Linked DNA regions of Homo sapiens. The protein of the gene in region 5 purifies or fractionates together with the protein of the main gene of each other region. This does not show direct contact. Each region holds a gene or a part of one and is shown on either strand. Other genes may lie near its edges. The genes, in order: XXYLT1, CEP120, RP2, TPD52 and MTX2.

Region 1 (5,327 bases), on a different chromosome or scaffold from region 5:
GTTTGGGTGGGGAAGTCTCTCTGCGGGGGCCGGTGGGGCAGCATCTCCAGGCTGGGAGGCAGAGCTGGTTCTGCCACGATGTGTCCTCCCCGTGAGGACCCACTCCCACGCCTGTCCCTGCCACAGTGGGCCTCCTGATGGTCCTCCTTCCTCCAGGTCACCGGCACGATTGCTGTGGCCCCTCCTCTGTGGGTGTGGGCTTGGACGCCTCTCCCCTCCACCTGCACACCCCTTGCAGCACACATGAGGCTTAGCTATTAAAGAGGCTGGAGGACAGTGCAGCGCTTTAACCCTGGCCCTCACAGGGAGGTGTCTAGGTCTTTCTTCTCCCCTCCAGATGGAAGCATTTGGGTAGAGGACCTAGAAGAGGCTAACACTCCCTGAACTATGAACCTAGATTGGTTTCTAAATCTGCTGAGAGAAAAATTGAACTTGAAGTGACATTCCTTCTAAAGTAGACATCATCCTACATGGCTCTTCTACAGCTGTCTTTCACCCTAACCCATGGTGTGCCCTGGGCTGTCGCAGGCCCCCAGCCCCTGCCCAGCCTTTCTGAAGTGCCAGGCTTGGGGCTCAATGAATGAGCCTTGTTCTAAAGCAGAAAACAGTTCTGTTCCAGTCAGGGTTCAGCTGCCTGCGTCTTGATGAGATCTCTGTTCAGGATTGTGTCCCCTGCTTCTCTCTCCCTTCTCCTTTTCAAGATCACAGGTGAAGACAAGGGGGTGGAAAGTTCTACCTAGATTGCTGCTATCTTAAGAATGTGGACTTTGGAGCCAGATTGTCTGGGTTTAGTCCCTGCGTCTGCTGCTTACTAGGTGTGTGACTTTGGGCAAATACCTTGACCTCTCTGTGCGTCCGTTTTCTTGGCTGTGAAATGATGTATCATCTCAGAGCACCCATCCCCTGGGGTTGTGTGGGGAGTAAGTAAGCCGGTCTAGTATGGCGCCTGGTACATCCTCAGTCAATAATATCAATGTTGGCTGTGGTGAGGACGTAGCAGAGGATGGTAGAAAGAATCTGAGGCTTGGGGTCCAGAGCCCTGGGTTCAGGTCCCAGCTCTGCCACTTGCTGGTGTAGTGATGCGGATTCTGCACCCCGGAATGTGGCAGTGTTTGCATGCAGGCTGGCTGTGAAGACCCAGGGCAGCAGGCCGGCAGGCTGGTTCCCCTGCACACCGGACTAACTCTGTCCTCTCTCTCCACAGGCACACATTCTGGCAGTTCCGCCATGAGAACCCCCAGACCCGGGTTGGGGGCCCGCCCCCCGAGGGGCTGCCGGGCTTCAACAGCGGGGTGATGTTGCTGAACCTGGAGGCCATGCGCCAGTCCCCGCTCTACAGCCGCCTGCTGGAGCCGGCGCAGGTGCAGCAGCTGGCCGACAAGTACCACTTCCGCGGCCACCTCGGGGACCAGGACTTCTTCACCATGATCGGCATGGAGCACCCCAAGCTCTTCCATGTGCTGGACTGTACCTGGAACCGGCAGCTGTGCACCTGGTGGAGGGACCATGGCTACAGTGACGTCTTCGAGGCCTATTTCAGGTGTGAGGGCCACGTCAAGATCTACCACGGGAACTGCAACACTCCCATCCCGGAGGACTAGGCGCTCCCCGTGCCTTGCCCCCGGGGCCTCCAGATCTGGGGGAAGGACAGGGTTCCTTGGGACAGACCCAAGGGCAGTGTCTGACCCGCTAGAGAGACACCGCAGGGAAGTCCTGTGATTAAGGTGCTGAGACCTCCTGCCGGGCAGGTCACTGTGCTGAGGCCACCCGCCAAGGACTGGCCTGTGCACTGCTGGTGCTTGGGACCTTATTCCTCCAGGGAGCAGGCGACACAAAGGACACGCATGTCCAGTGGGCTGGGAAGCAAGCACTTGAAGAGAAGGAAGGGGAGAAAGGGTCCCCCTTGCTGTCTGCCTCTGAGGAATGGAAATCCTTTAGACCCGGCCTTTTTTGGACCAATATAAATTTAATTTAAATTGACAGCCTTCCATTTTTCGAGAAAGTACAAACAGAACTGCTTTAGCACCCATCGAGCCCCAAACGGGTAAGGTAAGCCAAGGTTTTAATGACCAGCCCAGTATCTAAGCTTCCAAACGAATGCCAGCCCATCACATACTCACCCTGGGAGGCTGCTGCACGCGCATTCTCCTGATGCTCACGTCACTTGGTGTAGGTTTCAGGATCGCCTCTTTGAGGAAGGACTTCAGGACCAACTGGGGCCTGCATAAGAAAACTTATCTCATTATTAGAGTACTCACAGCTTGTATCTCCCAGCTACATCCTAGAACCCCATTGTCCTTTATTCCACCAAACCAGCTCCAGGTGACCAGACTCTACTCAGAAAGCAAATTCGTCATCAAAGAACAGAGACTGGCCACCACAAGGACATGCAGGAGAACTGTCGGGACCAGGAAGACTCATTCCAAAAAGCCCAGGCCGGGCACAGTCGTCAAGCCTGTAATCCCAACACTTTGGGAGACCGAGGTGGGGGTATCGATTGAGCCTCGGAGGTCGAGATCAGCCTGGGAAACACAGGGAGGCCCCCATCGCTACAAAATATTTTAAAAATTAGCCAGGTGTGGTGGCTTGTGCTTGTTGTCCCGGCTACTTGGGAGGCTGAAGTGGGAGGGTGGCTTGAGTCCAGGAGTTCACTGCACTGAGCTGTGATCACACCACTGCACTCCAGCCTGGACGACAGAGTGAGACGTCCATCTCAAAAAAAAAAAAAAAACCAAAAAGGAACCCAGCAATTCCCAAGTGTGACCATGTGGGCTTGGAAGACATGTCACTCATGGGCTAGTAAGCATTCTAGTTTCTTTGTTTAAAAAATCCCCTTATCATACCACGTTAGACCGTAGACCTTAGCAGAAATTAAAGCGTCATTTCTTTTGATGGGGCCTCCTGTACGTAGGCTGCAGACGTGAAAGCCCCAGGGGTCCATTTGTATCAATTTTCATCTTGTTTTGTTTTGATTTCATTTACGTTTTTCTTTTTCCCATGAGTGAGGATAGCCAATAAATCATCTTTGAGAACATGGTGATTCATGTTGTTTGTTCTCTGATCACAGTTTCAGCTGCATGAAGGCTCTGAATCAAGTGTGTACTCAATGCCATTGGAATCCCCACCTCCCCTGATGAAGATGAGTGCTTACAGGAGATCCTAAGGACCAAGGAGAGGGCACATCTGAGAGGGTGTCAGAGAGGGTAGTATTGGCATGTTTGGTTCAAAGCAAGGAATCATTTCATTCTAGGTATTGGCAGGTCCACCTGCACTGGGGAGCAAAAGCATCCCCATTTCTTCTCATCCCTCTTACCCTAGACTGCCCAGTTACATCCTGCCCTGAAGAGGTGGAGCAGATATCTTTCCCAGCCCTCTGCTGTGACAGAATTGGTCTGTTCTCTCACCTACTTGATTTCCTATTTATAGGTAACAATTCTTGAATGCCTGCTGTGCACCAGCCATTGTATTGGGGGATTTATTACGCTATTGATAATGTTTATGAAAACTTCATGAAGGTCATTATGTCTAAAGTCGACTGTAAGAAAATGTGAGAGATGTGGACAGAGTCATATACTATATGTTTATCACATTTTTTATAGTAGAAGAAAATTGGAAGCAACTTAAAATGTGAAAAAGAGGGGCCAGGCGCGGTGGCTCACACATGTAATCCCAGCACTTTCAGAGGCTGAGGCCGGCAGATCTCTTGAGCCCAGGAGTTCAAGACCAGCCTGGGCAACATGGCAAGGCCCAGTGTCTACAACTATACAAAAATTAGCTGGGCATGGTGGTGCACGCCCAGCTATTCAGGAGGCTGAGCTGGGAGGATCACTCAAACCCAGGAGGCAGAGGCTGCAGTGAGCTGAGATCACGACACTACACTCCAGCCTGGGGGACCGGGCAAGACTCTGTCTGTCTTTAAAAAAAAAAAAAAAAAAAAAAAAAAAAGAATGGAATAGGTAGATGAATAATATGCTTCATCCATATAACAGAATACTTGAGGCATTATTCGAAGAATATGTAATGCCTCAGGAAATACTTAGAATGTGCTATTAAATAAAGAATGCAAAATGTAAGATCATATGTTTAATACGATCCTATTTTTAAAATTACATATATGTGTATGTATATCAGTGTACACACGTGTGTATAGATACATACCTACACACACACGTATGTATAAAAAGAGCATCTATTCTGCTGTATTTCAACTTCTAAAAACATAGGTGTTTCAAACACCACATTAAAAAAACAATTATTTCAACGGGAAAAAAGTGAGTTAAAGGCTAAAGAATTTTAGACTCACAATAATAAAGGTATTTTCCCTGCAATCCTTTCTATAATTAAAATGTGTCTATAGCTATGTGTGTATTTTGTTGTTGCAAGAAAAAAACAATAAGCTGGTTGGTCAAAATGGGCAAAGGCCAAACAACATCCCTCATTTACTTTTAAGTAAACCTCTCAGGAGCTTCCCCTCTGTCACCAGTGGCCTCGACCTTCCAACCCCCCAGTGCACAGCAGACTGTCACTGCACAGGCACCCCAGCCCACCCACAGATCACACCCCAGCCCGCTGACAGATCACACCCCAGCCCGCTGACAGGTCCCACCGCAGCCCACCAACAGATCCCACCCCGGCCCGCGGACAGATCACACCCCAGCCCGACAGATCACACTGCAGCCCACCAACAGATCACACCCTGGCCCATAGACAGATCACACCCCAGCCTGCTGACAGATCACCACATAGGCACCCCAGCCCGCCGACGGATCACCACACAGGCAGCCAGCCCACCGACAGATCACTCCACAGCCTGCCGACAGATCACACCCCGGCCCACCGACAGATGACTTCACAGGCACCCCAGCCCGCCCACAGATCACCGCACAGGCACCCCAGCCCGCCCACAGATCACACCCCAGCCCCCCGACAGATCACCGCACAGGCACCCCAGCCTGCCCACAGATCACACCCCAGCCCGCCGACAGATCACACCCCAGCCTGCGGACAGATCACTGCACAGGCACCCCAGCCCGCCCACAGATCACACCCCGGCCCGCCGACAGATCACTGCACAGGCACCCCAGCCCGCCCACAGATCACACCCCAGCCCACTGACAGATCACACCCCAGCCCGTCAACAGATCACACCCAGCCCACCAACAGATCACTGCACAGGCACCCCAGCCCGCTGACAGATCACACCCCAGACCGCTGACAGGTCACACCACAGACCGCCAACAGATCACACCCCGGCCCACCAACAGATCACTGCACAGGCACCCCAAACTGCCCACAGATCACACCTCAGCCCACCGACAGATCACTGC
Region 2 (6,145 bases), on a different chromosome or scaffold from region 5:
AATGGGAAGTGAAAAATGCTTACTTTTTTTTTAATGAGACTAGCATAACCTTGATCCTAAAAGCTTACAAGGACAAAATTAATTGGCCAGTCTTTTAAAACATTAAAGATACAAGTTTAAGATATTAAACTTGTAAGCATCACAACGAAGTTTATTTACTAAACAAATGCAAGCTTGGTTATTTACCACATTCAAAGATTAAAGGAGAAAAAAATCATATCAATAGCTGCAGAAAAAGTCATATTCATTAACAAACTAAGACTAGACAGGAAATTTGTTAATCTAATAAAGAGTTTTTACATAAAGCCTACAAAAAACATTCTTAAAATAATGGAACTTTCTTCTGAGATCAGAAATGAGAGAAACCTTCCCTCTATTACCGTTTCTTTTCAACATTGTATTAGAGGTGTTCTAGCCAGTGTAATAGGGCAAGAAAAAGAAATACTGTATCATTTGGAAAGGAAAAAATAAAACTACCCTTATTTGCAGATAACACAGATGTATTTAGAGAGCTAAAAAGTATCTACATTGACCTATTAGGAATAAGTGAGTTTAGCAAGTTTGCTGGAAACAAAGTCAGTGTGTAAAAATCAATGTTATTTGTCTACTAGAGGCAATTAGGAAGTGAAAATTGTAAAGCTCTACCATCTAAAATATAATCAAAGAAATATGTTAGTCTTAGCATATAGAGAACTATAAACTATTATCAAAAGACCTACATAATTAGGTAAACCATTCCATTGATTGAAAAATCAGTATTTTAAAGACACTGGTTTTGGCCAAATTGATCTGTGGATTCAATATAATCATCATAAAATCTCAGCAGGTTTTTTTTAGCCTTAGAAATGGAAATTTATGTGAAAATGTAAGAGCCAAGAATAGCTAAAATCATTTTGAAGAATAAGCAAATGTAGAAGAACTGTCGTATATTGAGACATTGTTACAAGAGTTACAGTAATTAAAACAGTGTAGTGTTAATGTAAGGATAAATAGATCAGTTTAGAGCATCCAGAAACAAAAACATACATATATGGACAGAGGTGATATGTGACAGGTGATAACTGCCAAGCAACAAGAGAAGAGGTGTTTTTCAATAAATGTTGCTAGGTCAGTTTGAGCTCTACATGGGCAAAAAGTGAAACTTCAAAAGGGTAACATAAAAGAATATCTTCAAGATTGAGACAGGCAAAAAAAATGTCTTAAATAGGAAAGAGCACGGTTAACCAAAAAGGAATAAACAGAAAAATCTGAACTATGTTAAAATTAAGGACTTCTCTTTATTAAAAAACATTAATGGAGTAAAAAGACAGGCCGAAGACTACTGGGAAATAGTTGTAATTTATATAATTGATGAAGGGCTTATCCAGTATTTATAAACATCAATAACAGAAGATGGACAACCAAGTAAAGTACCAAAAGCTTAAATAGGAACTTTATGAACAAAGATACCTAAATGTCATTAAAACTATTGAAACGTGTTCAACCTCACTGGTCTTTGAATAGTGCAAAATAAAATCACAATGAGATACTACTATGTAACCTGTCAAATGGCTAAAATGAAAAAAAATGACATTATGAAGTGTTGGCAAGAATATAAAGCATTGGAATGCTCAAGTGGAAGTATGAATTGATAAGACTACTTTGCAAACTGTTTGGAAATACAGGTTGAACATCCCTAATCGGAAATGCTTCAAAATCTGAACTTTTTGAGCCCTGACAGGACACCACAAGTGGAAAAATCTACACCTGACCCTATGTGACAGTTCACACAGAATTATTTAAAACATTGTGTAAAACGTTATGTAAAATTACTTTCAGGCTGTGTATACAAGGTATATGTGAAACATAAATGAATTTCATGTTTAGATGGTCCCATCCCCAAGATATCTCATTATGTATATGCAAATATTTCAAAATCAAAACACTTATGGCCCCAAGCATTTCAGATAAAGGATACTAAAACCTCTATTTACTAATGCTGTTGTAATTCTTATATCCTCTGACCACGCAATTTGAAGCCTATGTATATATCCAGTAGGAATGCATACAAATGTGTTCCAAAAGACATGTATAAAATCTTCACATCACCATTATTTATAATTCAAAACTGGAAACTGCCCAATGTCCTTCAGCAGTGGAATGAATAAATTGTATATTCATTCAATGGAATGCTGTATAATAATGTAAATGATTAACTACAGAGAACAATGAGTCTCAAAAACAATGTTAAATGAAAGAACCCTGACACAAATACATACTGTATAGATTCTGTGTTAAGTTCAAAACTTATTTTTGTTTTTAAAATTAGGGTAGTAGTTATTGTTGGGAAAAGGTGAATGGTTAGTGACTGGGAGGAGACACAGACTTCTGGGATTCTGGCAGTCTGATCTGGATGGTGGGTATGTGAGTGGTCTACTTTGTGAAAGTATATCAAAATGTACCTTGTCATTTGGCAGTTTTCTGTTTGTTACAATTCAATAAATACTTTAAAAAAATAGTTAACAAAAACCTATTGACTCAGGTCTCCCACTTTGGGATTCTGTCCTAAACAAAAGAAAATGACGTAAGGATTCCTGAGCTAACTGTGTGATAGATGACAAGGTGTCCTATTACAGCATTGTTTGTAGTAGCAAAAGTGTCTGTTATTGAGAAAGTGGTTGAATAAGTCATGGAATATCCATTATGTGGAATGTTACTCATTTATTTTAAAAGACTTTATCTATTGACCTGAAGAATTGTTAAACTTTTTTAAAAATGCAAACTAGAATGTATTGTTTGTTTTCATTTTTGTTTAAGAATATATGTGCATAGGTTTTTGTATGAGTCTGGAGAACAGAGTGGAAAGGCATATTTACTGAAGTAGGAGTGGAATTAGTGATTTGTATAGGGACAGTTATTGAATTTTTCTAGGTACATCTTTGTATAATGTTTTTCTCAGATGCTGCTCTTACCACTAGCCTTTTGGCTGTTCATTGTATTGACAGTTCATTGTATTGATAGCACCCTCTTTCTTGCCTTCAACTTCCGTTGTCCTGTGATAGTCAGCTAATATCAATCACTGATTGAAGGATTATGACTTATAGTAAAAGAGAATAGAGTGTTTAGAGAAAACCTAGCTGGGTATTTCTGGTTAATATATAACTCATAAAATTAGCAGTGCAAGGGTGGGCACACACCTTGGGCCCAGATACTCCTACTTGGGCCCAGAGGCCGAAGCAGGAGGATTGCTTGAACCTAGTAGTCTGTGGCTGTAGTGTGCTTCGTTGCTCCTGTGACTAGCCAGTGCACTCCAGCCTGGGCAACACAGTGAGACTCTGTTAAAAAAAAAAAGAATTGGCAGTGTGTGGCTATATCATGGGTGTTGTCAAATAGGATTATAATCACAAGTCAAAGTCATATAAAATATTTGTTCCTAATATTAAGGATATGACTTGTTTCTTTGTTTCTTTCAAGAGGGAGCAAGAAAGTCAAATGGCTCGTCTTAAAAAACAGCAGGAAGAATTGGAACAGATGAGACTACGTTACCTTGCCGCTGAGGAAAAAGATACAGTAAAAACCGAGCGACAAGAATTGTTGGATATAAGAAATGAATTGAACAGGTATAATAACTAAAAGTGTTTCTTTCAAAAGCCAAAGTTTGGTTCAGGGAAGGTACAACTTGAGGTCTCCCAAGGATAAAGTAGATCATATATAAAAATATATAAAATGTAGCAGACATATACAATAGAAAATCTATGCCAGCTGGGTACTGTGGCGCATGCCTGTAATCCTAGCACTTTGAGAGGATGGTGGGAGGATCGTTTGAGCCCAGGAGTTCCAGGCTGCAGTGAGCTGTGATCATGCCACACTGCACTCCAGCCTGAGTGACAGAGTGAGACCTTGTGTCAAATCTAAAAAGAAAGAAAAAAAGTCTATGCCAAAGACTATTAAACTTTTTTTTTCCTGTGAATACAGCTATGGCAAGTCCATTCAGCTCTTGTGTTTCCATTTATAGCATTACTACTTTAAAATTTATTTTTGTGTGATGATATCAGGATTATTGCTACTATTAAACTGAGTCTTCACTTATATAAAGTATAAGAAATTTCAAATTTTGTTATATTATTAATATCTGTAACAATAGCTCTTAATGAGCTCTTACTTTGTGCCAGGAGCTGTTTTAAATGTCTTATATTGCCCGGCCCTTTTTTTTTAAATCTTCAAAGCTACTTTGTGAGGAAGATATTTTCACCATTTTCAAGATGAAGAGATTGAAGATTAAAGACAGAGCTTAAACATTATTCAAGATCATGTAGCTAGTAAATCATGGAGCCAGAGTTCAGATCCGATTCCAGAGATTGCATTTTAACTACTGTGCTACACTGGGCTTCTCTGTAGTGCTGCGTTCATCTGAATCACAACTTCAAGTGTTTCATGTTAGAAAAGTAATCACTAGGAAGCAGCATAAAAATGAATTCTAGTCTTTTTGGAGGGTGGTTTTGGGGGAAGACTTCTTAGCTTAGTTTATCAAGGGTCTAGTATATTTTTCTTTGAGCAAAGTGCAGTTTTAGTTAACTTGGACTGGTTAAAAAAAAATACCACAGACTGGGTAGATTAAACAGAAGTTTATTTTCTCACAGTACTAGAGGCTAGAAGTCAAAGATCACGGTGCCAGTGTGGTTGGTTTTAGAGACCCACCTTCTCACTGTGTCCTCTCTCTGGTGTCTCTTCTTAGGAGAGCACTAATCCCATGATGAGAGTTCACCCTCATGACCTCATCTAAACCTGATTGTCTCCCAAAGGTCCATTTCCAAATACCATCACATTAGAGGTTAAGGGTTCAACATCTGAATTTGACAGGGACACAGTTCAGAGCCTACACATTACATTTAAAACAGTATCTTATTATATCTCCATGTATGAAGTGGAGAAAAATGTGGTCACTATATTAAGTGGGTTCCTAGCTGAATTAAATAACTATATTTAAAAGATAATTGAAGAAATACCAGTTGCAAAAGGTCAGCTTTAAGGACCGTGCTTAACAGCATTCAATCTGTGGTACTTTTATTCTCATTTATTCAGGAAATATTTATTTGGTATCTACCATGTTGTAGACTTGGAAGATATTACAAATTAATGAATTATAATATCCTTGCCTTCCAAAATATAGCACTTTCTTGGTTCTAGTTTAGCAAATATATATTTAGCTCCTGCTGTTTGCTAAGCACTGTTTTGGTGGGTTAAAGATATCCATGTTGCCTATCAAATTTGTAGATCATATACAATTGAATCTTACTAATGTCTTAATAAATTAGGATTCTGAGAGAACTGAAACCAACAAGATTAAATATATTAGAGACAAAAGCAGAGTCCTCTGTATAAGCTATAAGAAAAATCACTTAAGTGATAGATAAGATATAAAACAGTTCATGTGAAGAAGCCTAGGAGAACTTACGTGGCCTCTAATAATGGTGTGATTTGGCTACCGAAGAGTCAGTGCAGTTAGGGACGTTCATGGAAGTAGTGTTCAGTATTCAGTACTGGTAAATCACCTCTGGGGTGTTCTTACCACTGTGCAACACACTTTAAGGGAAATCAGCTACCTAGAGAGCTTCCAATGGCATGTGACCAGGACAGTAAGGGGCAATATATCATGCCATCCAAGAAGTGGTTAAGAGAGTGAGGGAGTTTGAGACCAGCCTGGAAAACATAATGAAATGTCGTCTCTAAAAACAATATATATATACAAAATTTAGCCGGGTGTGGTGGCATGGCCTATAGTCCCAGCTACTCGAGAGGCTGAGGTGGGCAGATCCATTGAGCCCAGGAGGTCGAGGCTGCAGTGAGTTGTGATCACACCACTGCACTCCAGCCTGGGCGACAGAGTGAGACCTTGTCTCAAACAAACAAAATATACTAAGTATTATTATTACTGCTCCAGTTTCAAGACAGTTTGATCAACAGTATTCTATTGGAAATACCCAAATCGCAGGTCAGCATCTACTCTCCTTTTCTTATCCCCAAATGAGATTATAACAAACATAACTTGAAGATATCCATACAAAACCTTAACATGCATATGCCCTTTGAACTAGGCATATGTAAAGAATTTCACTTTCTACAAATAGAGATACAACTCAACTCCATAATAGTAGGGAATTTTTTT
Region 3 (6,639 bases), on a different chromosome or scaffold from region 5:
TCCGGGGCTCAAGTGATCTCCCATCTCAGCCTCCCAAGTAGTGGAGACAACAGGCGAGTGCCACCATACTCAGCTAATTTTTTGTATCTTTTTGGTAGAGATGGGGTTTCAACACGTTGCCCAGGCTGGTCTTGCACTCCTGAGCTCAGGTGATCCGCCCACCTTGGCCTCCCAAAGTGCTGGAATTACAGGCATGAACCACCACACCCAGCCGGGAGTTCCTTTTTAATTGCTGAGTGGTATTCCGTTGTATGGATATATCACAGTTTGTTTATCCATTCATCAGTTAAAGGACATTTGGGTTGTTTCCAATTTTGGTAATTATGAATAAAGCTACCATAAATATTTGTGTACAGGTTTTTGAGTGAACATAAGTTTTCATTTCACTTGGGTAAATACTCATGAGTGGGATTGCTGATCATATGGAAATTGTTTATTAAACTTTACAAAAAACTGCCAGGTCAGTGGCTCACACCTGTAATCACAGCACTTTGGGAGGTGAAGGCAGAAGGATCGCTTGAGGCCAGGAGTTCAAGACCCGCTTGGGCAACATAGTGAGACCCCACCTCTACAAAATGGATAAACATAGCCAGGCAGAGTGGCATATGCCTGTAGTCCCAGCTACTTGGGAGGCTGAGACAGGAGGATTGCTTGAGCCCAGGAGTTTGAAGCTGCAGTGAGCTCTGATTGCACCACTGCACTCCAGTGTGGGCAACAGAGCAAGACCCTGTCTCTATAAAAAAAAAATTAATTAAAAATTTAAAAAAGAAACTGCCAAACTATTTTTCAAAGTGGCTATGCCATTTTGCCTACCAGCAGTATATGAGAGATACAGTTGCTCTGCATCCTCACATCACTTGCTTGGTATTGTCAGGTTAATTTGTTTTTAAGAGACAGGGTCTGCTCAGTCTCCCAGGTTGGAGTACAGTGGCATGATCATGGCTCACTGCAGCCTGGACTGCCTGGGCTCCAGCAATCTTCCCACTTCAGCCTCCCAAGTAGCTAGGACTACACTACATGTGTCTGCCACCACACTCGGCTAATATTTTTATTTTTTGTAGAGACAAGGTCTGGCTGTGTTGCTCAGGCTGGTCTGAAACTCCTGGCTTCAAGCGATCGTCCCACCTTGGCCTCCCAAAGTGCTGGCATTACAGCTGTGAGCTACTGCACCTCGCCTAGCTTTAAAAAAAAATGTTTAGCCATTCTAATAGGTGTGTAGTGATGTTTCATTGTAGTTTAACTTGCATTTCCCAAATGACTTGTATTTACCTAAATGTTGAGCATTTTTCATGTACTTATTTGCCATCCATATATCTTTGGTAAAATGTTTATTCAAATCATTTGCCCATTTTTTTATTGGGTTATTTGTTTTCTTATTATTGAGTTTTTCAGAGCTCTTTATATGTCCTGGATACAAGTCCCCTGTTATATATATGTTTTGCAAATACTTTTTTCCCAGTTAATAACTTGCCTTCTCTTAAGAGTGTCTTTTGAAGAGCAAACATTTTCAATTTGAGTAAAAGTCCAATTTCCACTCACTTTTTCTTTTGTGGATTGTGTTTTTGGTTTCACATCTAGGAATTTTTTTTCTTTTTCTGAGACGGAGTCTTGCTGTGTCGCCAGGTTGGAGTACAGTGGCGCGATCTCGGTTCACTGCACTATATGTATATGTATGTATGTATGTATGTATATACACATACACCATATATATGTGTGTATATATATACATACATATACAAAACAATTGCTTACTAGATGCACAAATCAATGGAATAGAGAGTTCATAAACAGGCATATCTCTCTTTACATATATATATCTATATCGATCACACTATATATATGTGTGTGTGTATATATACACACATATATGTGTGTGTGTATATACACACATATGTGTGTGTGTATATACACACATGTGTGTGTGTACATACACACATGTGTGTGTGTATATATATACACACATATATGTGTATATGTGTATATATGTGTGTATATATGTGTATATATGTGTGTGTATATATATACACGCATATATATGCGTATATACATATATATGGACTCATATATGTGTATATACATATATATATATATATATATATATATATGGACTCACAGTGTGTCCTTGGACAAGTTATATAGTCTCTGTGTGCCTCAATTTTCTCAAGTATAAAACAGAGATAATTATAGTACACAACCCTTATGGGGTTTTTATGGATTGAGTGAATGATTATAGAGCACTTAGTATGGTGCCTGGTACATATATAGTGCTTCTTATACTCCTGAATCTTTTTACTTCTATTCAGACTGGATTTTCATTGGAATTAACAAATCCCATTATTTTATCTCACATTATCATTATGGAAATTTAACTGTGGAGATGAATTTTAATGAAAAATTTGTATTGCCGCTTAGTAAGATAATAAGATGTTCATTTTTGTTTTCTGTTAGGAAAATAATGCTTAACTTGGTTTAATAGCTGTAGGACATTAAATTGATATCAGACGAATTACAACTCTTGAAATTTTTCTTTGATTTTTTTTTTTTTTTTTGAGACAGAATTTGGCTCTTGTCTTCCACGCTGCAGTGCAGTGGTGCGATCTCGGCTCACTGCAACTCTGCCTCCTGGGTTCAAGCGATTCTCCTGCCTCAGCCTCCCAAGTAGCTGGAATTACAGGCGCCCACCACCATGCCCAGCTAAGTTTTGTATTTTTAGTAGAGACGGGGTTTCACCATGTTGGCCAGGCTGGTCTGGAACTCCTGACCTCAGGTGATCCACCCGCCTCGGCCTCCCAATGTGCTGGGATTACAGGCGTGAGCCACCACGCCTGGCCACTTTCCTTGATTTTTTAAAGTATATCCATTACCTTTTAAGGATTGTAGTAAGAAATAGTCTAGGCCAGACACGGTGGCGCATGCCTGTAATTCCAGCACTTTGGGAGGCTGAGGTGGGTGGATCGCTTGAGTCCAGGAGTTCGAGACCAGCCTGGACAACATGGCGAAACCCCATCTCTACAGAAAATACAAAAATTAGTTGTGCATGGTGGTGTGCACTTGTAGTCCCAGCTACTCAGGAGACTGAGGCGGGGAGGATTGCTTGAACGGTGGAGGTCGAGGCTGCAGTGAGCTGTGAGTGTGCCACTGCACTCCAACCTGGGCAACAGAGTGAGACCCTGTGTCAGAAAAAAAAAATACAGTCTAAACTAAACTCACTTCATAAGTGGCTCTTAGGAAAAAATAATTTAAAACATGACCTTTCCATGTTTGTGATTCTAGACACTTTATTTCAGAACTAGTAACCTGCAAAATTACGAAGGATTTCAGTTTCAGTTGTTTATTATTACTTTTTTTTTTTTAAAGTGTCAGGGTCTTGCTTTGTCACCCAGGCTGGAGTGCAGTGGCATGATCATGGCTCACTGCAGCCTTGAACTCCCAGGCACAAGCAGTCCTCCTGCCTCAGCCTTCTGAGTAGCTAGGACTACAGGCGCACACCACCATGCCCAGCTAAGGGTTTTTGTGTTTTTTTACCCCCCTTCCACCAACTCACTTCAAATAATCTGCTAAGTTTTAAAAAACTTTTTTAGAGCTAGGGGAGTGTCACTGTGTCACCCAGGCCAGTCTCAAACTCCTAGTCTCACTAGGCCACTGGCCCACTCTCAAGTAGCTGGGATTACAGATGTGAGCCACTGTGTCTAGCTCCTAATGCTTTTTGTTTTGAAAAACTTTCAGGAATTGTTGAGAAAGTACAGCAACATAAATCTTAAATTTCTCCTTGGAAGGCCGTGCTGACAATCCAACTAATTTTATACTACAGAACTATTTAGCTATAAAATCTTTAGCTATCAGATTAATTTCTCCCTATGAGCTAGGAAAAGTGGAGCGTCCAGAGAAAATACTTAGGGTAGTAAATTACATTTAACTCCTCAGCATTGGCAGCTGTTATGGACTGAATGTTTGTCAAATTCATATGTTGAAGCCCTACCCCCCTACACATGGCTGTATTTGGAGATGGGACCTCTAAGGAAGTAATTAAGGTTAAGTGAGGTCATAAAGGTAGAGTGCTGATCTGATAGGATTAGTGTCCTTATAAGAAGATTCAGTTAGCTTGCACTTGCTCCCTCCCTCTCCTTCACACAGAGGACAGGTCTGGTGATGACATAGCAAGAGGTTGGCTTTTGCAGTCTGAGCAGACTAAAACAGGCTGCCATAACAAAATACCACAGACTGGTGGCTTAAATAACAGAAGTTTATTTCTCACAGCTCTAGAGCCTGGGAAGTCCAAGATCAAGGTGCTAGCAGATTCAGTGTCTGGTGAGGGCTCTCTTCCTGGCTTACAGACAGCTGCCTTCTTGCTGTGTCCTCACATGGCCTTTCCTCTGTGATTCATCCTTCTGCCTTACCTCCTACAGCCATTGAATTACCAGTCTGCTGATTCTGTTTCCTCAGTATTTCTCAAATTCATCCCATCTTCTTCTTCCCTACTAATTACAGCTCTGGTTCCAGCCCTTTCTGTATGACTACAATAGTCTCTCCGATCAATCCATGTTGCATGTGTCCTTATCTCATCAGAGTAATTATCCTGACATGTAAATTTTGCTTATTTAAATCTTTCTGTGGTTCCCTCTTGTCTGTGGATAACTTCTAAGCTTTATATAATACGGTTTCTGCCTACCTCTGTAGCTTCATCTACTAGCATTCTGATAGCATGTGTAACACCAAACTACTTTCAGTTTTCCTCCTACTCCCTGAAGAATTTTACTTTGTTCCGTCTGTTACTTTTGCCTGGCATGGGAAGGGAGGGTCCTTTATTCCTACCCCTTTTACCTAATGAGCTCTAGCTTATCCATTCTCATGTTTTGCAGAACTTCCGCCCCACTTCTCTTCCCCGCCCCAGATGTCCCTTCTCTGTCCCCTCCAAAATATTCTCAGCATCTCTCATTACATGGTCAAGTTGTTTTTAGTTTAGATGAATGTTTACTTTTATGGAAAGAGCTGGTCCTATTCATTTTAGTGCCTAAAACAATGTCTGGCTCATACTGGGTATTCAAATATTGGTAGAGTGACTGAACATCCAGAAAGTTAAGGGGATTTTTTCAAGATCCGGTTGCTTATAGGGGACAAAATTGGGACTGGAAAATGAGTACTTCTTTTATTGCCTCATACTGCAGACCAGTGTTCCTCCTAGTACAGCATGTAAAACTGGCTAAGTACAATATCTATTGTGCAATTACTAAGTCAATTTAAGCTCATTTGCTAATCATTAAGATGATTAAATTTTGCTTTGTAAATCAAATTTTTACATATTGTATATATGGGAGCCTATGGTGCATGAATGGTTTTGCATGAAGTTTATATAGTCACAAACAGTTAAAACAGTTGAAGTAGATAAGAAAGTCACATGGAAGAAACAAAAATAGGCTTTTAGTGACCATATTTTGATAGGTCAGGTAAAATAAAAAAAATTAATGTGACATTTTCCAGGCATACTGTTTAAAAGATTATGTGGGCCGGGCTCGGTGGCTCACACCTGTAATCCCAGCACTTTGGGAGGCCAAGGCAGGCAGATCATCCAAGGTCAGGAGTTTAAGACCAGCCCGGCTAACATGGTGAAACCCCATCTCTACTAAAAATACAACATTAGCTGGGCATGGTTGCACACGCCTGTAATCCCAGCTACTCAGGAGGCTGAGGCAGGAGAATCACTTGAACCCGGGAGGTGGAGGTTGCAGTGAGCCAAGATTGCGCCATTGCACTCCAGCCTGGGTGACAAGAGTGAAACTCCATCTCAAAAAAAGAAAAAGGCCGGGCACGGTGGCTCACGCCTGTAATCCCAGCACTTTGGGAGGCCGAGGCAGGTGGATCACAAAGCCAGGAGATCGAGACCATCCTGGCTAACATGGTGAAACCCCATCTGTACTAAAAATACAAAAACAGGGGCCAGGCGTGGTGGCTCACGCCTGTAATCCCAGCATTTTGGGAGGCTGAGGCGGGCAGATCACGAGGTCAGGAGATCAAGACCATCCTGGGTAACACAGTGAAACCCCATCTCTACTAAAAAATACAAAAAATTAGCCAGGCATGGTGGCGGGTGCCTGTAGTCCCAGCAACTCGGGAGGCTGAGACAGGAGAGAGCCGAGTTCATGCCACTGCACTCCAGCCTGGGCAACAGGGCGAGACTCCATCTCAGAAAAAAAAATACAAAAACAAAATTAGCCGGGTGTGGTGGCAGGCACCTGTGGTCCCAGCTACTTGGGAGGCTGAGGCGGAGAATGGCCTGAACCCAGGAGGTGGAGCTTGCAGTGAGCTGAGATTGCGCCATTGCATTCCAGCCTGGGCGACAGAGCGAGACTCCGTCTCGAAAGAGAGAGAGAGAAAGGAGGGAGGGAAGGAAGGGAAGGAAGAGAGGAAGGGAGGGAGGGAGGAAGGAAGGAAGGAAGTAGCGAAGGAAGAAAGGAGCGAAAGAAGGAGTGAAGGAAGGAGCGAGCTATAGTTTGGAAGATCTAAGAATAGAAATGGCCAAATTTGAAAAATTGCGTTGTAGCTTAATAAATGCTTGAATCAAATTTGCTTGCATTTACATATTGTGATTCTTGTGCCTTCAGGTTCTTCTGTTTTCTGTAGCATATTGCAGAAATCAGTTGG
Region 4 (6,639 bases), on a different chromosome or scaffold from region 5:
CAGGTTCTACAGTATCATTTTACAGTTTCCAACACATTGAAAACAAGTAGAAAATGATGAGTTGATTTTTATTAATGCATTACATCCTCAAGAGTTATCACCAACCCCTCAGTATAAAAAATTTTCAAGTTATATTAGTCATATAACTTGGTGTGCTTATTTTAAATAGTGCTAAATGGATTAAGTGAAGACAACAATGGTTCCCCTAATGTGATTGATATTGTCATTTTTACCAGCTTCTAGATCTAAACTTTCAGGCTTTTGAACTGAACATTGATGACAGTGTTCATAGTTCAACCTACTGAACATACAGTGTGCTTGATTCAGAATGTTATTTTGTAGAAATTAAAATTTTAACCTGGTGAAAAATAAGTTGATATAAGTGGTATAATAAACAATACACTGAAATGGTTACTGTCACAAACGGTGCTAAATAATGATATAGGAGGTTCCACTCTCAAGTCACCTAGAAGTTTGATTACATATTGTTACTTACAAAACTATAATAAATTGGATGCACAGCTGTTTACTTCAGTCTGGTGTCTTCAACCAAAATATGTACCTTATACCAAAACAATGCTTATTCCAAAATATTTTTTGTAGCTAGTAGTTCTTTCCTTGGAGGTAAAGAAAATACACCCAAACTTTTAATTACCAGGATTCAGAATATTTAAGAGAACAATTTTAGTTAAGAATCAAATATACAGAGATTCAAAGAGGGGAAAAAAAGGAAATATTATAGAAGACAAAGGTCAAACTGGCATTCCAGATCTGGAGCAATTTTGTAAAGCAGGAAAACAACTATGACAATCTGTAGCTTCTTAGATCATTATAGTGAATGTCCCCATTTACTATAAGTGTTTTTATAATGGTGTTTCCTAAATAAAGGAACATAAATGTACACTAAAGGGTGTTTCCCAAGAATAGAGGTGAAGATATTTTCATTTTGTTTAACCCACAAACTATTTGGTCAAAGGAATATGTAAAGCTAAATAAAAGCACATCTGGTAGAAATTCATGGCAATGCATGTTGACAAGATGTGCTTGGACCTCGCTTGCAGCATCTGGCAGTGGGTAGCAGAACAAAGGTAGGAATCTCACAGGCTCTCCTGTGTCTTTTCTGGAAGAGGCTCCGTGGTGGTGGCACTAGCATTTGCAGCCGAATTCAAGACTTCTCCAAAATCACCACCAGCAGGCTTGGTTCCCCCTACTTTAGACTTAAAAAAAAGTTCAAAAAAGGGAAAGACATTATGAAACATAAAACTAGCTGATTCTGCATAAAGTAACTCTAATTCACTTTCAAGAACAAATACATCAGCAACCTTATAGCTCAGTGATTATTATATATGTATGGAATTTAGTATTGTTGCAATGTTCAGTGTGGTTTTATAGTAAAACTCATGCATTCTCCCTTGCTGAAATATTCAGATTGGTAAATTCTACCCCTTCCCCTTTCCCCCTGCTCCTTGTTCTTCACAGGAAGTCTGTCTAGAAAACTTTGTAAGGTCTATTATTTTAAAGTACCTAGTGAACTGTCTGTCTCTACACTTGCATAACATTTTGTATTGCATCGAATTGCTCATTTAGCTACACTCATTCAAGAAATATTGAATACAACATGGGAAAGAAATATATGTTTTTTTCTCAGTTACAGTATAAGCTTTCTAACCCTTTAATACTTAAAGTGTGGTTCAAGGACCTACAGACTCAACATTACCTGGGAGCTTATTAGAAATGCAGGATCTCAGATATCCTTTCTACCCCACCCAACTCCAGCTACAGAATTGAAATCAACACTTGAACAAAATCCCTGAGTTGTTCATGTGCACATTATAGTTTGTGAAGCACTACTCCAACCTATCTGGCCTGAAATTTTGCCAATAAGCATTTATTTCAATATATCTGCCTTGCATTTGTATAATACTTTTTCAAAACCCTTACACATGTCACTTTATCCTTTTCAATGCTAATCTGTATATGCTCTCTCACTGTTACACTGTCCAACAGGACAGCTAACAGTAAGAAAACAGTCAGTGACCATGGATGCAAGAAGCTTATAGTGGGTTTGAACTTGACCTTGCTCTTAGCTCAATCTTAATTGAGTGGTCACAGACCCCTTATTTTCACTCTCATTCTTTTTGATCTACCATCCAAATTGTTTGGGAAATGCGAATAATGTGTGTTCATTGTTTATTAAATTTATTAAAACACATTCCTTAATTATAGTATCAAATCTCCTTGCAGTTCAACATGTCTAAAACTGAACTCCTTCCCCCGACAACTAGCCCCTTCTCTATTCTTTTTTAACACTTTATATGGCAATAGCACCTACCTAGCTGCCCCAGCCTGACACCTGGGGTTGTCCTGGATTCTTATCCAACTTGTTCTACATCCAATCAATCTTTTTTTTTTTCCGTGTCACTTCTCACTTCTAAATAGCTCTAGACTTGGTCCCATTGCACTAACTTAATTCACTCTCCATCATCTTTGGCTTGGAGTACAACTCCGTCCTTCCATCTAATCTGCCTGTCTCCAATCGTTCTCCCCTTTGATGTGCAGGGCAGCCACTGATCTCTCTAACATTTACAGAAGAATGCACCACTTGGGTTGTTTAAAACCCTTCAATGGCTTCCCATTGCCCCAAGTTCAAACTCTGCAATGTGGCCTACACATCTCTCTAGCTTCACCTCCTGCTCAATATCCTACAGCACAGTGAAGTTCTTGGTGGTCCTCAAAAGGGCCCTCAAACTTCAAACATTCCCTTCAACCTAAAATCCTCAATGGACATTACTGAGTCCTCTAAGAGGTCTTCTCTGACCTTCCCTTCCACCAAGCCAGGTGAACTTTCTGCCACTTGTCCTCATCACACCCTCAGCTTTTCACATCAGAACCCTTACCTCACTTTAGTTTCATTGGCCATTTAATTGTCTAGGCATCTTGCAGAAGGGGTCCATGTCTCTCTTGCTCACTGTGGTAACTCTGGTGCCTAATACTGATTGACTGGCACATGGCAAATGCTCAGTAATCACAGATGAATGAATCAACCCAAAATCTAAATGGACCTCATGTTTAATTAAATATAAATGTAATTTAACAAAATTATATCCCCAGCATGTAATTTTACAGCTTCCTTAGGATACTTGGGGTATCTGTTTAATACGCTATCCTTTTTTTTTTTTTTTTTTTTTTTTTTTGAGACAGGGTCTGGCTCTGTCACCCAGGCTGGAGTGCAGTGGCATAATCGCTGCTCACTCTGCCTCCCGGGCTCAAGCGATCTTCCTACCTCAGCCTCCCGAGTAGGTGGGACTACAGGTGTATGCCAACACATCAGCTAATTTTTCTATCGTTTTTGGTAGAGACAGGGTTTTGCCATGTTTCCCAGGCTGGTCTCAAATTCCTGGACTCAAGTGATCTGCCTGCCTTGGCCTCACAAAGTGCTGGAATTACAGGTGTAAGCCACTGCGCCCAGCCAACATATTGTATGTTTTTAAATTACACTTTTTAATCTGAATGGTGCCTAGTCATATTTTAAAGCAGACTTCATTACAATTTATAGAATCTAAATATATTCAGGAGAGTATATAGTGAATGACCTGGAAGTTTCTCCTCATGTCCAATGTCAAAAACACATAAGATTCCTGGTTTTCCAATTTGCCATTTCAAAAATTAACACTTGGGGCAGATTTCAAGGAAAGGCTATAACAGTCCTAACAATATTGAGAACTGAATTTTAGTAATCCTTGACTTCCTGCAACTACAGTTTGCTTTCAAATATATGACTTGGCACTAAGAAAAATAAAGCAGGTCTCTTGAAATGACATAGAAGAATGACTCTTATATATATTGTTACTCATCAGATGCATATTGAGCAATGTGCCAAGAACTGTTCTAAGCCTTTGAGAAGTATCAGTGACCAAAAAGAACAGGTCCCTGCATTTATGGCTCACAAAGCACCCTGCTAGTGAGGGCTGAATGAATAAGCTGTAGGACTGTGTGTGTACAGTGTAACTCCTCTTCTGAAAAAACATTCATATGTCTGCATACAAACAGAAAAGGTATGTACTAACGTTTGTATGTTCAAGAAAAAAAACGATCCAAACATCACACACCAAGGCGCCTGTCAGGGGGTGGGATGGTAGGGGAGGGATAGCATTAGGAGAAATACCTAATGTAGATGACAGGTTGATGGGTGCAGTAAACCACCGTGGCACGTGTATACCTATGTAACAAGCCTGCACATTCTGCACATGTATCCCAGAACTTAAAAGTATAATAAAAAAATAAATTAAAAAAAGATCCAGATCACTGTAGAGTGTTTTATTTCAATAAATGTACCCTGCTTTTAAAGATGCATTTCGTGACTCAAAGTTCTGAAAGACTAAACTGAATATTAGTTTTTAAACTGACTGATATAAAAACATTTAAGATACTAGTTTTAATCCTTAAAATATATCCCCTATAATTATCAGAGTTAGGAAGTAATGAAAATATGGGTTTTATACAAACTCCGTAGAGAGGGTCGAGGAATAGATGGGAACTAGACAACTTTTGAGGTTGCCTGTGATCCTAAGAGTTGATGATTTTATAGCTTTGAATATAATCTCAAAGATAATATAATTTACAAATCAATAAAGCTCATTATTATGGGGAAATGTTCACCTCCACTAAAATCAAAGAAATCAAAAAATAAAAACAGTGAATCATAAACGATCATCATGGCATCATTATAATAAAAAAAATGTCCAACAATTGAGGACTGAACAAATAATATCCATTATAAGGTAATACAGGCCAGGCATGGTGGCTCACACCTGTAATCCCAGCACTTTGGGAGGCCGAGGCGGGCGGATCACGAGGTCAGGAGATGGAGACCATTCTGGCTGACACAGTGAAACCCCATCTCTACTAAAAATACAAAAAATTAGCCGGGTGTGGTGGCACGCGCCTGTAGTCCCAGCTACTCGGGAGGCTGAGGCAGGAGAATCGCTTGAACCCAGGAAGTGGAGGTTGCAGTGAGCCAAGATCACGCCACTGCACTCCAGCCTGGGCAACAGAGTGAGACTCCATCTCAAAAAAAAAAAAAGTAATATACAAGCAGCCATTGCACATAATATTGAAAGAGAATACTTACTGATACAGGAAAATGATTATGATGTATGGCTACTTCTTTTTTAAAGCGTAACAGCATAATAGCACATACATCTATCACTGTCTGAGTGGTAGGACCAATTTTTTGTTTTCTTTCTTGTGCTTCCTATATTCTTGTTAATTGTTGACAAGAAAGTTATATTAAATTTTGTCCACCTACAAAGGTACTTGAAATGAATAAAGCAAAAAGCAGCACAAATTTCTAAAGTGCCATTTCTTTGTAAATTGTACATTTCCTTTCAGCATGTGGCATGCTGCCACACTACAGCATACACTAAAAAGATATTAAGTACATAACACCTTAAATGTCCACTAGTAACATAAGGAGTAAAGTTATTTACATTCTTTAGATATTTTTAGAAAGAAATATTAATGTCAATGATTTTCGCACAGCAAAGTTAATTAAGACACCAGGCAATGTATCAAAAAGACCCTGTTCATCTCTCTACTTGCCTTTAAGTTTTCGACCTTTTCTTCAAATGATTTAAAAGTTGGGGAGTTTCTATGGAGAGAAAAGAAAAACAAATAGTAAATACAAATACTGAAAAAAAATCCAACTAGTTTGAAAATATAATTGATTCCTCTTCAACATTATTCTCAATCGGCAAAAGAACAGATATAATCTGTACCATATATGTGCAGGTACATACAAGTATTTATAATGTAAGATTCTCAATTTCTGATCTAATATTTTAAGAGTATGCATTTGATTCCATGAACAGGGCCAGTCTCAGACATAAGTAATATAGATATGGTCAAGTACGTGTGTAAGGAGAGGTAACGAAGCCGGGTAAAATAGCAATTCTGTCACTTCCCCAACCAACTTGTCATGGTACAAGAAAATGCCACCATTAGATCAGTTTAATTTTGGTTAAGGTACTACGCTCTAAAATCCCTATTTTGATTCACATCTTCCCTGGCAGAATTTCTACATGAACACACATCACCTAAGTGGGACAAGCTTATGAGGTTCAATATCAGGGAGCAGCATAATAGACTGGGAAAGCAGGGACCAAAAAGAAGGGGGAGAAGCATAGAAACGGCTTTGCCTACTTCACAACTCTGTCCCAAAGGATGAGGAGAGCACGCTGAGCCCACAGGACATTCATTCATCCATGTTACATTCACATCTATCCATATTAATTAAGGAGGATCATAGCGCCTTTGTCTCTCACAAAGGCGCTTTGGAAACAGGGTTTCCAATGCTGTTATCCTATCCAACTGACCTTGAATATCCTTCCTACTACCAAGATGAAAAATGCAAAGAAAGGAAAAGGGGTTTCTTCCTTCCCACGGTGGTGATGGCAGAACAGTTAAGCCAACAGCTCTCAAAGTGTGGGCCCCAGACCAGCTGCTGCTGCAGCTATCAGGAAGTCATAAGCAATGCCAATTTTCAGGTCCCACCCCAACTCTACAGGATCAGAGGCTCTAGAGGTGGGGCCCAGCAAGCAGCGGTTTCACAAGCACTCCAAGTGATTTTGATGGACACTT
Region 5 (6,639 bases):
GCCTAACAAAAGCTTCAACTGCATCCATAGGACAACATGCATTACAAAGAAAAGGCAGGCCTTTTGGAACACAACAACTCAATAGATGTATTGAGAAGATATTTCCCTGTTGCCAATTCTGCATTCCTTCCTTCTACTGCTTTATAAATCTTGCAAAAAAAAATTTTTTTATCTGGTTAAGCATTAGGCCACATTGTTTTCTTAACTCGGGATAAAATCTTTGTAACTACTATACTACCAGAATTATTACAGGTCCCCTGAGATCAAATGATCTGAGAATGAAAACTATTTAGTACCTAGACAAACAGTATTTGGGGGTATAATATTTTTAGAGCAAAGCATATTCCTTGTTTTTAATGACCAGTTTCAGGTTCTTGGAAAAAAGGGTTTGTATTTTTTTTCTTTTCTTAAAAATACATTGAGCGTTGTCAATTCTGAAGCAAAAAGAAGTGTGGATAGTCAACTGAGTATTAATCTTATATATCTCTAAATATAAAGAGATATATAAAAACAAACACAACAAATTAGAAGTGAATAATGTTTTCTGTCACTAGCCTGCTTAATGAAAATGGAGCCAATGTTATATCCTTATTATTGCAGGTATCAGGCAAAAACACAGTAAGACAGTTATTTTCTGGTGCGAATCAAAGGTCATATAAGAAAACTGAGGGCTTTGTTTACCGTCTTAGACAGAATAATCACTTTTAAAATTTTTATTCTAAAGAAAGCAAGAATATGTTGCCAAACAAGTTGGCAGATTCAAAGAATGCAAGAAATAGGACCTTGGATGTCATCTAATCCGGCTACCTTATATTACAGATGAAGTCACTGAGGCTCAGAGAAGTGAAATTTCTCAAGGAAATAGTTAATATGTGACAAAGTCACAGAAGGATTAGTTAAAGATTTCCTAACTCTTTAGGAAATAAGAGTTTAAGTCAACTGGTCTTCTGACTAGTCCATGCTCTCTGCTTTAAAAATCTACCGCAAGATCAAAGAAGCAAATACAATAAAAAACATTTCCCTATCACCTCAAATCATTAAATGAAAGAGAATACCAATCTGAGATATGATAAAGTTTAAATATCTTAGTAGAAAGTGCCATTTTCATCTACCTATAGGAGACTCCTATGAAAGAATGTATATTTTTGTATGTCTCTAGAATATTTATGTTTGTCTTTCGCGCAATCTAATAAAAAGAAAATAGGTATCTACCTAAATGACACTAAGTATAGTAATTTTAGGAAACAGGTAGATAAACTATATTGATATCTCACTTGCCAAAGATCTGAACTTTAGCATTAGATTACTAACCTTCTAACCTTTTTACATAAATATACAAACTGTTTGTATGACTACATAGAGGAAAAGGATGGACAAAACACAACATAACTTATTTCACCAGAACTCTGTAGTTCCTAAAATCTACGTATAAAACCAACACAAAAATGAGTCAATGAATGCCCTCCAAGAATCTAAAATATGTTTACATTTACAAGCCTAGAAATTATTTTATGGAAATGTTTTCTAAATGTATATTCATAAACCTCTAAAACCAGGTATTTATATAAAAGAACATTATGTACAGAAGGGGTGTCTTCATACCTTTTAACAATTTCTACCACCCTTAAAAACTTAAGGTGGAAAAAAAAAATTTAACACAAGTCACTCCTAAATTATCATATCAAAATGAAAAATGTCTCCCTAAAAAGCAATGTTACACACTTATACCAATCAGTTATACTTAATAATTTATTCAAAAAGGAGTAATTCTACGTATTATTGCTCCAACAAAACCATAATTACAATAATCATCCATGATAATTATATATAACATTTATTTATCAGCTTTGTAGCACATTTTTATATTAAAAATTTTGAATTATTTATTTAAAACAGTAATTTAATCTACTGACATAAAGATAATACTGATTTTAAAAAATAGGAAGCTAAAGCATCTCAAAACCTGTTAAAATTAAGCATTAGAAAAAATAATTAGAAACCAAAAACATTCAGTGATGACTTCAAGATCTAACGACAAATTAATTTTTCTACAATCTCTCTTCTTCCAGCTGTATTATGGGAGAATATAATTAAGAAAGATGTGTGGAATAATAAATGGATTCATTATTACTAAAATTTGTTTTCTCAACAGGAAAGTCTTATGTACATTAAGACTAGGGAAATCTGAGATCATGTATTTCCTTAACATTTACTATTTAAAACAATTCCCTTACTATTAAAACCATTTCCACACGTCAGTAACCATCTCTGATCACAGTTGAAATGAATAGATATGCCAACCCCAAGATTGTCAAATTTGCAATTGTTACTTTCTAAAACCATGGAAAGATTCTTCAAAGGGTAAACAAAAAAAATCAGGCATTTTAACATGTAGATACAAACTGGACTATCACTATAATTTTATCACTCCATAATATTAACAGAGAAGAAAAAAAAACACACTTACCAGATGGAGACATATATTCTGCATTTGCCCTACAAACTACTTTGATAGGCAAGTTACACATTTGCAAAAAGGCCTGTAAATCAAGATACATACAATAAGCCCAGTAAAAAGCATATGCATATTTGAACAGAAATTTGTATGCATTTCTTTTCTAAACTGAATAGTTTCATACTACAAAACTCTAATAGAAAACAATGAACCAATTTAAAGTGAAGGATTTGTTTTCCAAACAAAAATGTCATGTCACTACTTAAAAATCAGTATGATTTAGACATCAGTAAATACATGAAACTTAAAGTATGTATGTATACCTAAGGAATAAAATGTAAATTATCCACATTTATGTTACTGTATTAGTTTATGTAAACCAGCAATACTATATATATAGCTTTAATTTTCTTAAGTAGATGACTAAAGTCCAAATTTTATAAGCTATTAATTGCTTCATTCCACTATTTTCTATAGGATCATCATCTTCCTCATTTTAGAGGAAAACTCAAAATACTATCTCTGCTACCTCAAAGTTCTCTCCAGTAATACCCTATATTCCAACATGTAGTTTCTGTGCTCACGAATTCACTTTTTAAAGACTTAAATTGTTTATCTTTGCTCATAGTTACAAAAATGTTATAAGCAATTTAAATGTCTAATAATAAGGGTATGGGGTAAATCATTATAGTAAATCCAAACTATGGAATGCTATACACAATCAATTTTAAAACTCATGCTTTAGAAAAAATTTTACATCAAGAAAAAATGTACACATTATAATATTAAGTAAAAAAATGCAAAACTCTATTACTAGATCACACTAATTCATTTTTAAATGTTTTTAAGACACCAGTGAACTCTGCCAAACCCACTGTTTTTTACAATACTCAAAGTCCACTCCCCTTGTTCTCTCTTCTATGACTTCTTGGCTTCTTTTTCTCTATTCACAAAATTTACTATGTTATTTCTATAAAATAATTCAGTTATTCAATTGGGGAGGTCATAAGTTACAATGGTTCTAATTACCACATACAAATTGGAAGACAAACCTTTTGTCTATTTTGAAATTGAAAGTACTATAAATAGCTGTCAAAAGTAAGATAAGATAAATTAATAAATTAACAAGGATATTATTTATCATTTTACTCAACAGAGATTTCTCATAGGTTTATTATAATTCCTTCCTCAACTCTACATTAGAAATAAGTGTTAAGACTCTTAAGTGTTAAGGGTACAAAACAGTGATTAATATCTTGTACAAAGAACTCCATTTACCCAAAAGTATGTCAATTCTCTTCTGTTTTCTCAAAACTCCAGTCCTTTAGAGATGCCTGCCTCCAAAAATAAATCCCACGTGAGTCTGATTCCCCCACTAATTGCATCCTCTGATTCTTACATTGCTCTGTAACTTATGTATGCATGTCTGATCTCCTCAAGTAAATGGCATCTCTTAGAAAAGCAAGGGGGAGATTTTTAATTTTTTTTTTCAATTCTGTTCTCCTTCCCCCAATCTCCCTCATTTTCCCACAATTCATCTTTCATAGTGCACTACTTATAATAAGCAATATTGTTTACTGATTGAGCCATTCAAAGCTCCCAAGAGCTTATCCTGGTAGAGGCTGTTATCCCTGCCACATATGTTCTCTCCTTTCCCTACAGTGGTAGAAACTATCTGCACACAAGGCTGCCTAAAATAAAAACTTATTTTCCGGGCTCCCTTACAACTGGGTATGGCCAACTGGACTAAAAGTTCTGGACAACTGCTGGGAAGTTTCTTTAAAAGGAGAAAGTATCTCCTCTTTTTCCTCCCTGTTGACTAGAATGTAAAAAGGATGGCTATAGCTATAGCAGCCAAACAGAACCATGAAGTAGCAGCTGAGTGTTAGAAATGGTAGAGCAACAAGAGTAAAGGGGCCCAGGTTCTTGATAATCATGTAGTCACCAAACCTGGATTACCCGTGTTTGTCCGAGAAGTGAACTACCTTTTTAAGCTACCACTATATTGGGTTTCTGTCACTCACTGCCAAATCCAATCTTAATTAATTCACCTACAGTTATGATTTCTAAGTTTAAACACCATCCTGCCCCACCAGAAGTTGATTCTTCTGTGTCTATTTAAGTGGAAACTAACGGTCCTTTAAAACCTATAACCAGTGATTCCAATTCATAGCAATAATAGTGAGCTTCCTGACTGACCCACAAAGATAGGGTAGGGTGGTGATTCTCAAACTTCAGCATGCATCAAAATCATGTCAAAGCATGGCTTGCATGGAAAGAATTAGAGAAAATGAATATAAACAGTTCTTTCAAAAAGCCTGGATCTGAAAACAAGGAAGAAGGGAGGAGAAGAGTTGCCTCCCTTCTATTACATATGAAGAAGAGTGGAGCTTATTAAAACACAAAGAGAAAAAAAATAATGGAGATAGGCTGAAATTACATAAAACAAGTGAAATAACTGATATACAAGATCCATGTGGCCAGAAGCAGTGGCTCACACCTGTAATCTCAGCACTTTTGAGGAGGCCAAGGCAAAAGGACCACTTGAGGCCAGGAGTTCAAGACCAGCTTAGAAAACATAGGGAGAACCCATTCCTACAAAAGAGTTTAAAGAATTAGCTGGGCATGGTGGTGCACACCTTTAGTCTCAGCTACTCAAGAGGCTGAGGTGGGAAGATTGCTTGAACCTGGGAGGTCAAGGCTGCAGTAAGCCATGATCACACCACTGCACTCCAGCCTGGGCAATACAACAAGACCCTGTCTCAAAAAAAAAAAAAAAAAGAATAAGTAAAAAGGGAGGAAGTAAGACCTTAGCTGGAGAGATCTGTTTTTGTCAGAACAGGACACTTTTTCCACTGTAATGCAAGAGGTGGTGGGGAATCAGTGATGATGACTGAAAGTTGATAAGAAAGAACAAGAATGTGAGTGCTCATATTTTACGAAATAGAAGGAGAAATCTTTTGCTGAGAATGAAAAACTAAGAAGGGATTGAGGCCTTCAGTAGAACAAAAAAGAGTTTGAAATAACTGTTTAATATATCTTCTCAAAGGCCTGAATAATATTCAACTGTTAATAATAATATTGTATAAAATAGTAAATATAGTATATTTTGCTAAACTACATGCGTAGTGGTAACTATGCTAATTAATATTCCAAAATGCTGTATTTCACTTAAAATAAAAGCAGAATTGTAATGTTCTGCAATCAAACCTATGCTTCTTTTTTTTTTGAGACACAATTTCACTCTGTCGCCCAGGCTGGAGTGCAGTGGCACAATCTCAGCTCAATGCAACCTTCAACTCCCAAAACCCATGCTTCTTAGTCCCATGCTTTTTATTTTTTTATAAAAACTAACTGACAATTTTACCAATTAAATGACACTCAACTTACTACAGACCTCAACTGATAGCATAATTCTAGTTAGTCAATTAATCTGTAGTTCACAAAAAAGTTTGATGTCACAAAGCATTTTCATCCAAACTTTAAAAATGCAAAAACAGGCCAGTCCCAGTGCTTCCAGAGGCCGAGGAGGGAGCATTGCTTGAGGCCAAGAGTTCACGACCAGCCTGGGAAACATAGTGAGAGCTTCTCTCTACAAAAATTTTTAAAAATTTTTGGCTCATGCCTATAATCGCAGCACTTTGGGAGGCCAAGGCAGGTGGATCACAAGCTCAGGAGTTTGAGACCAGCCTGGCCAACATGGTGAAACCCTGACTCTACTAACAATACAAAAATTAGCCGGGCGTGGTGGTGTGTGCCTGTAGTCCCAGCTACTCAGAAGGGTGAGGCAGGAGAATCACTTGAACCCGGGAGGCAGAGGTTGCAGTGAGCTGAGGTCGCACCACTGCACTCCAGCCTAGGTGACAGAGCAAGACTCCATCTCAAAAAACAAAAAACAAAACAAAACAAACAAAAAAATTAGCAGCATGTGGTGGCAGGCACCTATAGCACCAGCTACTCGAGGAAGCTATGGTAGGATAGCTTGAGTCCAATAATTAAAGGTAAGCTATGATCACGCAAAAAAAAAAAAAAAAGCAAAGCCAAAACATCACCATGACTATCTTCAATAATGTAAACACCCTAAAACAATAGCAAGGTTTGACTCAAACAGTATTTCCCCTTTCTCTTGAAAGATGGAAGAAAACACTGGAGAGGCTCACTGTCACCTTCCGCTTTGACTTTCA

The links.
Region 1: the proteins of MTX2 (region 5) and XXYLT1 purify together in Homo sapiens (co-immunoprecipitation; one large-scale study listed by IntAct). This does not show direct contact.
Region 2: the proteins of MTX2 (region 5) and CEP120 purify together in Homo sapiens (affinity purification with mass spectrometry; one large-scale study listed by BioGRID and IntAct). This does not show direct contact.
Region 3: the proteins of MTX2 (region 5) and RP2 purify together in Homo sapiens (co-immunoprecipitation; one large-scale study listed by IntAct). This does not show direct contact.
Region 4: the proteins of MTX2 (region 5) and TPD52 purify together in Homo sapiens (affinity purification with mass spectrometry, with the first as the bait; one large-scale study listed by BioGRID). This does not show direct contact.

What each region holds. Positions count from the first base shown.
Region 1 is NC_000003.12:195,065,989-195,071,315, reverse strand, and holds the end of XXYLT1 (xyloside xylosyltransferase 1), read left to right. Parts: intron 1-1,204; coding exon 1,205-1,601; 3' UTR 1,602-3,032; downstream 3,033-5,327. UniProt on the Homo sapiens protein: Alpha-1,3-xylosyltransferase, which elongates the O-linked xylose-glucose disaccharide attached to EGF-like repeats in the extracellular domain of target proteins by catalyzing the addition of the second xylose.
Region 2 is NC_000005.10:123,347,398-123,353,542, reverse strand, and holds part of CEP120 (centrosomal protein of 120 kDa), read left to right. Parts: intron 1-3,453; coding exon 3,454-3,599; intron 3,600-6,145. UniProt on the Homo sapiens protein: Plays a role in the microtubule-dependent coupling of the nucleus and the centrosome.
Region 3 is NC_000023.11:46,845,853-46,852,491, forward strand, and holds part of RP2 (protein XRP2), read left to right. Parts: intron 1-6,639. UniProt on the Homo sapiens protein: Acts as a GTPase-activating protein (GAP) involved in trafficking between the Golgi and the ciliary membrane.
Region 4 is NC_000008.11:80,037,019-80,043,657, forward strand, and holds part of TPD52 (tumor protein D52), read right to left. Parts: intron 5,651-6,639; coding exon 5,602-5,650; intron 1,218-5,601; coding exon 1,098-1,217; 3' UTR 1-1,097. Other genes in the region: TPD52-MRPS28 protein, read right to left, coding at 5,602-5,650.
Region 5 is NC_000002.12:176,319,293-176,325,931, reverse strand, and holds part of MTX2 (metaxin-2), read right to left. Parts: intron 2,541-6,639; coding exon 2,468-2,540; intron 1-2,467. UniProt on the Homo sapiens protein: Involved in transport of proteins into the mitochondrion.